Linked DNA regions of Homo sapiens: region 2 is linked to region 1. The links come from fine-mapping of genetic effects on gene expression. A gene starts in region 1. The other region holds a variant in brackets. All regions are shown on one strand. Distances are between the middles of the regions. Region 1 holds the start of PLXNB1 (plexin B1). Region 2 overlaps SHISA5 (shisa family member 5).

What was found. PIP is the estimated chance that this variant, and not a neighbour inherited with it, causes the effect. A credible set is the group of variants that fine-mapping cannot tell apart.
Region 2: its variant is the best candidate, but not a certain one, in a credible set for the expression of PLXNB1 in whole blood (TOPMed, PIP 0.71).

The regions. Positions count from the first base shown.
Region 1 is chr3:48,428,392-48,432,566 of GRCh38, forward strand. PLXNB1 (plexin B1) reads right to left here and starts at 1,695. Exons shown (of 38, transcript NM_001130082.3): 1 at 1,617-1,695. It overlaps CCDC51 (coiled-coil domain containing 51), which reads right to left. Exons shown (of 4, transcript NM_001256964.2): 4 at 3,782-4,175. The coding sequence ends at 4,017. RefSeq lists silencers at 649-728, 809-1,408 and enhancers at 1,649-2,642, 3,996-4,175.
Region 2 is chr3:48,499,262-48,503,436 of GRCh38, forward strand. It overlaps SHISA5 (shisa family member 5), which reads right to left. Exons shown (of 6, transcript NM_016479.6): 2 at 1,876-2,032. Among named protein-coding and RNA genes, the nearest start is that of SHISA5, 2.8 kb to the right of the region's middle. The variant C/T (reference allele first, on the strand shown) is at 1,851.

The sequences.
Region 1 (4,175 bases):
CACATGCCCTGGAGTCTCTTCTGGGGCCACCCTACTCTGAACCTTTTCAGGGGGCGCAAGACTGCCCAACTTCTGTCTGTAGAGCAAGCACCTCCCGGACCCCCGTGGAGCTGTCCTCGACAACAAAAGGGGCTCACAAACCCCGCCATTCCGCACCTGCAGAGGGGCCATAGGACAGCCCACATTTGCCTTGCCTGCCAGTTAGTGGGAAACCGGCCTTCCCGTTTCACCCTCCTGCTCAGCTCCCAGGGTTCACTACAGAGGTGAGTTATTCATTGACAGTGCAGTGGTGCCCGCTGCCCGCCCTGTTTTCTGTGTGTTGAGGAGGGGTGGGGAGATCCACCATTTACCAGGCACCTGCGATGACCCAAGGCGCTCATCGATCACCCACTTAATATGTCTGTGTGTGGAGAGGAGGGTCCCCCCCACCCGCCCGGGGGTCAGGAGGCTCGAGGTCCGCCTTTGTCAGTCCCACCGGGAGCAGCCAGAAAGGGCTGTTACTACTGAGGGGAAGCCCCGACCTCCCCACTCGGCTCGTCCTTGACCCTCCCCAACCCCCAGACCCCGAGGCGAGGACCCCATCACTGGCCCTGGGAGGGCGGGGAAGGGGCCGGCCGGTCCCCGGCGGCGACGGCGAGGAGGGGGCGCGGAGGAGCAGCTCCACCTCCTCAGTCTCCCAATCGCGTTCCAGGCGGAGTCGCCAGAGTTTCCCTTCGCGCGGAGAAGTGTGGTCCCAACTCTCAAAACCAAAGCCGCCCACCACTCACCCAGGCCGCCCCTGCCCGGCGGGATCGGGGCCCCGGCCCGTTCCACCTCGGGAGCCCCGTTCCTCGCCGCCCTGGCCCCGAGCCCCGCACTCACCACCCGGCCGGGCCCCGCGGGATGTGCGCGCCGAGGCGGGCGTCGGCCGCTCCGGGCTCGGGCTCCGCGCGCAGCGGCCTCTCCCCGGGTCTGGCGGAGCCGCAGCTGTTACCCGGAGACCGAGGGGCGGAAAACTGCGCCCGCTGCCCGCCCCTCCCGCGCGGCGCTGCCACCGCCGGGAACAAAGGAGACAAAGCCGCGTCGGCCGGGCTCGTCTCCGCTCCTTCCCCCTCGCCTGCCGGGCTGCCCTCCCCCCGCCCGCCGCCCGGGCCAGGCCGGAAGCAGCCCGGAGAGCCGGGCGCGCGGCCCCGAACCGCCCGGGACCCCGCATTCCAGCCCCGCGGGCTCCGCATCGGCCGAGGGCTGGGGACCCGACCCCTCCCGCACGGGGGAGGGCGGGGGCGGGCTGCACCGCGGCGGTCGCCATGGCAACGCGGGTCGCCCGGAGGGGTGAGGAGTGAACCCCGGGAGCCAGAGCCGCCCCGCCCCGTCGGCCTCACCTGCTCGCCTCCTTGGAACCGGAACTGGGAACTTTCCTGGTTGCCAGGAGCCGAGGCGGGGGGTCGCGCTCCGCACCCGCAGGTGCTGGTGGAACAGCGTCCCGGCCTCTTCCCGCCCGTCCAGAGCCGGGTAGCACCCGAGTCCCTCACCAGCCCGACCCGTTCTTCTGCCAGCGCCCGGCCTCGCCCCGCGCCCGGAGCTCCCTTTCCCTTCCTTACCCGGCTCCGGTGGTCATCCTCCCCAACTTTCTTTACCTGAACTCCAAGGCGCCTTGTTTCTCCCCTGCGCACCTGGCCCTGCCCACCGCCCCTGCTCACCGCCCCTGCTCCCACTACTCCCCAACAGCCAATCCCTCCTTCCGGCCCCCACCTCTGGCTGTTTGAGAAGAGCATGGGCTTTGGACCTGGGCTTGCGCCATCAACTAAACCATGTAACCTGACACCAACCCCCCCCAGCCTATTTGCTCACCAGTAAGTGGGGGTGATCCCACCTCTAGCGGGGCTGTGAAGGCAGGGAACCTGGGCTGCAGAGGCGCACAAGCAAGGGCTCACTTCCTTCCTTTCTTCCCAGCCCAGGACCCAGACCTGGACCCACCCCAAGCTGAGAAGCGTTGGGCAAGTCTGGGCTCCCTCACTGGCAAACACCTGGGCCTTCTGCGGGAGGAAACGCTGGCAGAAAGGTTCTCTCCTGGGGACCATTTGTACCCTGTGCAGGGCCCTTCACACCCTGGCATGCCCACGGCTAACTCAGGACCAGAACCTGGCCCATCCTATTAGGACTTTTGGAGGACTTTGGCTCAAAGCCATTGGCACAGCTTCCTGGGAGGCAAAAACGTCACAGGCATCATCTGAAAGCCTCCAAGGCCTCCACAGGCTAGGGGAGCCTCAATCAGGAGGTTCAGGTCATCCACACTGGCTACTGCCCTAGAGCTAGAGACACCCTCTTCCCACCTCCCACCAGCTATCAAGGGTCTCCTGTCAGGTCACCCCTTTTCCTCCACTCCCACTTCCAGCACCTGAGTCCAGGTGCTTAGCACCTTGTCTGCACCAGCATAGCAATCCCTCCCTGGATCCCTCACCCTTAGCCTCTGACCTCAGACTGCCAACCTGGCACCCCGGGCCTGTGACATCATTCTGCACAACTCCCCCACACCCATCACCACCCCAGCCAGGACAGTCTGCCCCAGTCCCTCACCCACTTTGGCTTTCCTGCCTATGTAGCTTGTAGCAGCCCCCTCCACATGCACAGAATCCCTCCCTCCCCAAATCCATTCATCCAAGCACACACTTCAGGACCTATCTCACCCCAGAGGAAACTGGGACTTCCAAACCCCACAACCCCTTTCATCTGTACACAGATACGCTACCTCCTGCCCTACAAGGAATGTGAACACTCTAAGCACAGGGGTCTTTCCATCCCATGCCATTCTGGGGAGCCATTACTCGCCAAGGATAGATTGACTGAGGGACCAGGTGCTGAGAACCTGGGGTGGGGGGCATTTGGGCCATGCTCACTGCCCAAGACTGAACACAGGCTCCAAGAAGAAAGTATGCCTTATGGGAAACACTCCTGACTCCACAGGCTCTGAGAGCTCTGCACAGGCACCAGTGAACGAGTCCCCACCTGCGGCCCCCCTGCATATAGCTACCCTGCGCTCTCAAAGGGGAGTGGGTTCTCTGGAATGTGCCTGACTTCCAATACTCCAACACCAGGACTGAATACCAGCCCAAAGCTCCTGTTTACTCAGGGCACACAAGGCCACCCATGGCCATTTAGTCAAGGTCAAGGGTCACTGTTCCCCTCTGAAAAGAGATCATACATATGCCCCACTGCACCTCCCACCTGTGGGAGACCCCCCCCTCCCTATCACTGCCTCTCCATGCACACTCCCGGTGTCCTGAGCTCTGCCTATGCCTGTGGAAGATATCCCCGGGCTGTGTGGGGGTGTGCACCCAGCCCCCGTGGCACACCACTGCTGCCCAAAGCAATCTCTGTACCAGGGATCCAGACTGGCCACCAATCCCTATACTTATGTCCCCAGCAACATTTATCAACCATTCTCCCAATCTCCCTTCCCTGCTCTCCTCTGATCACTCCTCCAGTACTAGAACCAGGAAGTTCTCCCCCACATGGTAGAGAAAGTGATCCAGGAGATGGGAAGCAACCATGGTCACGAAATGAGTAGGCAGCAGGCTAGGTTCCACTCACTGGAACTCCCAGGCCATCTGACACCGGACAGTCAGGTAACTGGAGGAAATCCAAAATGAAAATCTAGGCCTCAGGAGTGCATCCATAACAGTTCAGAAAAGAGGACAGAGAGGAGATGAGAGAGGAACTAAAGGGGGTGACTACCCCAACTCCAGGCCCAACCTTCAAGTCTTGGATCTTGATTCTTAATGAAAAAAACTCAGTCTGATTGTTTTAAATAATAAAACTCAGGATATTTTAATTGGACATTAGCACAAAGTTTTGATAATTAATGTAAATGAACCTTGTCTACAAAGCGAAGCATGCCTGCTGGTGAGCCACACAGATACTGCTCCTTCAGATTGAGGTTGTACATGCCCCCAAAGGCTCGCTTCATTGCTACGATTCTCTACTTAAATCCACATTCACAGCTATTGCCTCAGACCCTCTGGAGGAGGGGCCAGGGGTTAGCTGGCTTTGAATAGCATGTAGAGCACAGGCAGTGTGGCCACAAATGTCACACAGGTGACCAGGGTGCTATAGATGGTGTTCCTGTTGACTTGGGCTTCTAGTCTCTGCTCCGTGTCTGACAGTGCCAAGATCATGCTCCCCTGCTCCAGCAAGAA
Region 2 (4,175 bases), 71 kb after region 1:
CCTGCTAGGTTCAAGTGATCCTCCTACCTCAGCTTCCCAAAGTACTGGGCTTACAGGCATGAGCCACAGCAACCCCCGGCCCTCTACATTAAATTTAAATGGAATAAATGCTCCTGCTTTTAAAAAAAGAAATACCATCAGGCGCGGTGGCTCATGCCTGTTATCCCAGCACTTTGGCAGGCCAAGATGGGCAGATCACCTGAGGTCAGGAGTTCAAGACCAGCTTGGTGAACATGGTGAAACCCCATCTCTAGTAAAAATACAAAAATTAGGCCGGGCGTGGTGGCGGGCGCCTGTAGTTCCAGCTACTTGGGAGGCTGAGGTAGGAGAATGGCGTGAACCTGGGAGGCGGAGCTTGCAGTGAGCCAAGATCGCACCACCACATTCCAGCCTGCAGCCTGGGTGACAGAGCGAGACTCTGTCTAAAAAAAAAAAAATACAAAAATACAAAAATTAGCCAGGTGTGGTGGTGCACGCCTATAATCCCAGCTACTCGGGAGGCTGAGGCAGGAGAATTGCTTGAACCCGGGAGGCGGAGGTTGCGGTGAGCCGAGATCACATTATTGCACTCCAACCTGGGCAACAGAAGTGAGACTCCGTCTCAAAAAAAAAAAAAAAAAAAAAGCCAAAAGGTGAAGTGAAAGGGTGAAAGGGTAGAAGAAGACCTGTCAGGAACCCTCAGGCAGGACTGACAGGTGTGCAGCCCTGTGCACCACTCCCAAGAGCACCTGGAAGTCCTTAGTGGATAACTGTGTGCATCTATGACATGGCAACTCCACAACCAGATGTGTTTCCAAGAGAATTCTTACACAGCTCCATAAAAGGAGGTATACCAGATGCCCACTGAAGCTATCTATCATGACAACCATTGTGGATTCACACCATTCAGAGGGACACAGCAGTAGTGGGCAAGGGCCAGATGTGCCACAGCAATGTGGCTAGGTCTTACACTACACCGACTTTGCAAGAACTCAAATAATGAAAAGGATGTACCTTATACATAGCAGACCATAGCAGACGGTTGCCTGTGGGGTGGGAAAGGAATGAAATGGTCCTGACATATTAAAGTAAATATATAGGCCAGGCATGGTGGTGCACACCTATAGTTCCAGCTACTCAGGAGGCTGAGGGAGGAGGATGGCTTGAGCCCAGGAGTATGAGACCAGCCTGGGCAACATGGTGAGACTCCATCTCACAAAAATAAATATGTAAGATAGCGGGGGTTGGTCTTGCCCAGACCCAGGATGATCACCTGCCATGAGCAGAGGAGTATGACCATCTCAACCCTCTACACCGAGGCCAAACACAAAGGAAATACAGAATACGGCAAAGAGCCACACACAGGGGCCTGGAACCTTGGTCCCAGCCATGAAACAGTCTACACCCAACATGCAGGTAAATTCATAGGCTGCGCTGGGAGGACACAGATAGAGCTCACACTGGGGCACATGCTTACGCACTGCACCCTACAGGCTCCACAAGCGGGTTCTGAACAAAGGATACCCCTCAGGGGCATGCGCATACTGTGGGGTATAGTCAAGCCCAAGTACCCACCCTGAGGACATCTTGGCACAGGTACACACCCGGGGTGAGTCACAGGACCAGCTGAGGCCAAGGACCTCTAAGAAACCTGCTCAGCCCAAGGCTCAGCAAGCTGGAGCCCTCAGGGTAGGGAGGAGATGGACAGGGGACTAACTGAGCAGGTCTAGGGGGTCCAGCCCAGAACAGGGGATCCCTAAACCCTCTGCTCCAATGCTCTGGCCACCATCTTGAGAGGGCTGAGAGGCCAGAGGGGCAGAGCTATCTCTCTTCCACATACTCTCCTGTGGGGCACAGGCTCAAGCCACCCA[C/T]CCTGTGACCCACTGGTGCACCCACCTGGCCTCAGGCACAGCACACCTTTCCTCGCTCCACACAAATTTCTTCAGCACGTCAGAGCAGCAGTATTGGTCATCACAGGTACCACAGCAGAAATCTGGACAGGACTCGGGGAAGAGGCTGAGTCCACGGGAAGCCATACACACCTCACCACGTGCTGGAGAGGAGAAACACATCTGTTCACCTGTGCCCACGGGCCAGGCCCCAGCAGACACAGCGCCCTCCCTGGCACAGCCACCAGACCACACACACACACACATGCTGCACCGTCTCTGAGCCACCCTAGCCACAGGCCACCTTCTGACCCCTGGCCACTGCTCCCCCTCAGCCTTGCCCTATCCCACGGGCCACAACAGAGCTGCCCTAACTGGGCTCCCTCTCTCCCTCACCAGTGCACTGGCCTCCTGATAGGAGGGTGAACTTTCTCAATGTGAGTCTGATGGGGCCACACCCTGCTCTCAAACCTCCCCTAATTCCCACTGCTTCAGGATCAAGGCCCGAGTTTCCAAGCAGGGTCTAAACTGCAGAGTCCTGAAGATCACTCCAGCTCTCCAACCTGTCCACACTCCGCTCACATTCTTGCCTGGTTCCTATCTCCTGCCTTTCAACTCTACTCATCCTTCAAGGCCCTACTCCAGGTGGCCTCCTCCAGAAGCTGCCCAGGCGAGAAGTCACACAGCTCAACACCTGCAGGGGACCAGACACTGGACTGTCCCTTTCTTTCTTTTTTTTTTTTTTTTTTGAGACAGAGTCTCACTCTGTTGCCCAGGCTGGAGTGCAGTGGTGCGATCTCAGCTCACTGCAATCTCTGCCTCCCAGATCCAAGCAATTTTCCTGCCTCAGCTTCCCGAGTAGCTGGGATTACAGGTGCCTGCCACCAGGCCCAGCTAATTTTTTGTATTTTTTAGTACAGACAGAGTTTCGCCATGTTGGCCAGGCTGGTCTTGAACTCCTGACCTCAGGTGATCCACCCATCTTGGCCTCCAAAGTGCTGAAATTACAGGCATGAGCCACCGCACCCCAGCCAGACTGTCTAGTTCTTAATCCTCGTTCACTCTCTCCCTCACTCAACCACAGCAACCTCAGCCCCTGCTGGGCACCACAACTGCAGGGGCCTGGCTCTCACAGACCACCCCATAACCATGATGGCAGGCTAGATCCTGGTCAGAAATTGTCACACCCACCATACCAGCGTTCATAAAGCACTTAGCCCCGCGCTGGGCCTGCAGCAGGTGTCCAGGAAATGTCTGTGCCTTCCAGGAGTTTGAGACCAGCCTGGGCAACAGGGCTCCAAGGCAGTGGCACCATCTGTAGCCCTGGAGCCATCACAAGACTCTCAGCACAGAGTTGGGATCTACTGACATCCTTACAAGTCTCAATAAACGAGGTCATGCTGAGGGGATCTGGCTGACAACAAATGTGGAAAATAACCCAGGTTTTTGGATGACCACAAGGTTTACAAACCTCCAGGAAGATGCTACAGTCAAATGTTCCCATGTATCCTCAGGCTACATTAGCAGAGACCTGTGCCCACTAACAGGAAGGAACAGTACCGGATTCTGCCAGGGCAGACTCCAAAGAGAATACCTAGTCCAGCAAGGCCCACAAGTCCGCAGTAGGCAGGGGACAGGTCTGATGATAGCCCTGAGGCATAACTACATCGGCCTGGAAACAGTCTGCCATAGCACGTGGCCTCTGGAGACCCAGCCAGGCCAGGCACCTGGCCATGTGCAGCATCTGGTGCCCGGGCCTGATCAGGACACCACACACCCCGAGGCTGTCAGTAGAGTGAAGCCCAGAGACAGAGACACCAAGTGACCTCCTTGGGAAGAGGGAACTTTAGTGGGGAGTTGGGGGGAACTGCACTTCTTGGCAGCTCCAGGCAGAACCCTGCTCTGGGCAAAGCCATGGAGCAGAGGATTGGACCATTGACAAGCCCAGTTTGGCCAGCTGCCCACCTGAAAGCTGGTATCATCAGCATGGCCCGTGCCTGGTGGCTCAGGTGAACCCATATGCAGCAAGGTCTTCACAGCCCAATCTGAGCCTCTGAGCTAGGGCTGAAGACACACCGGTGAGGCTGTTTAGGCTGAGTCCATGGCACAAATGCTCTCTGACCCCCAGACCTCACTGAATCAGTGACCGACCCTCCTACAGGCTCACTCCAGGAGTGGGCGGATTCTGGGCACAAGTCTCCCCTTTCTCATTTCTCTAGCCCAGGTCCTCTGGATTCATCCCAGCCCCCAGGAAATACAGCCTTCCCCTCCACGAAGCCACCCACCCCAAAAGGGTCTTTGGCTTCC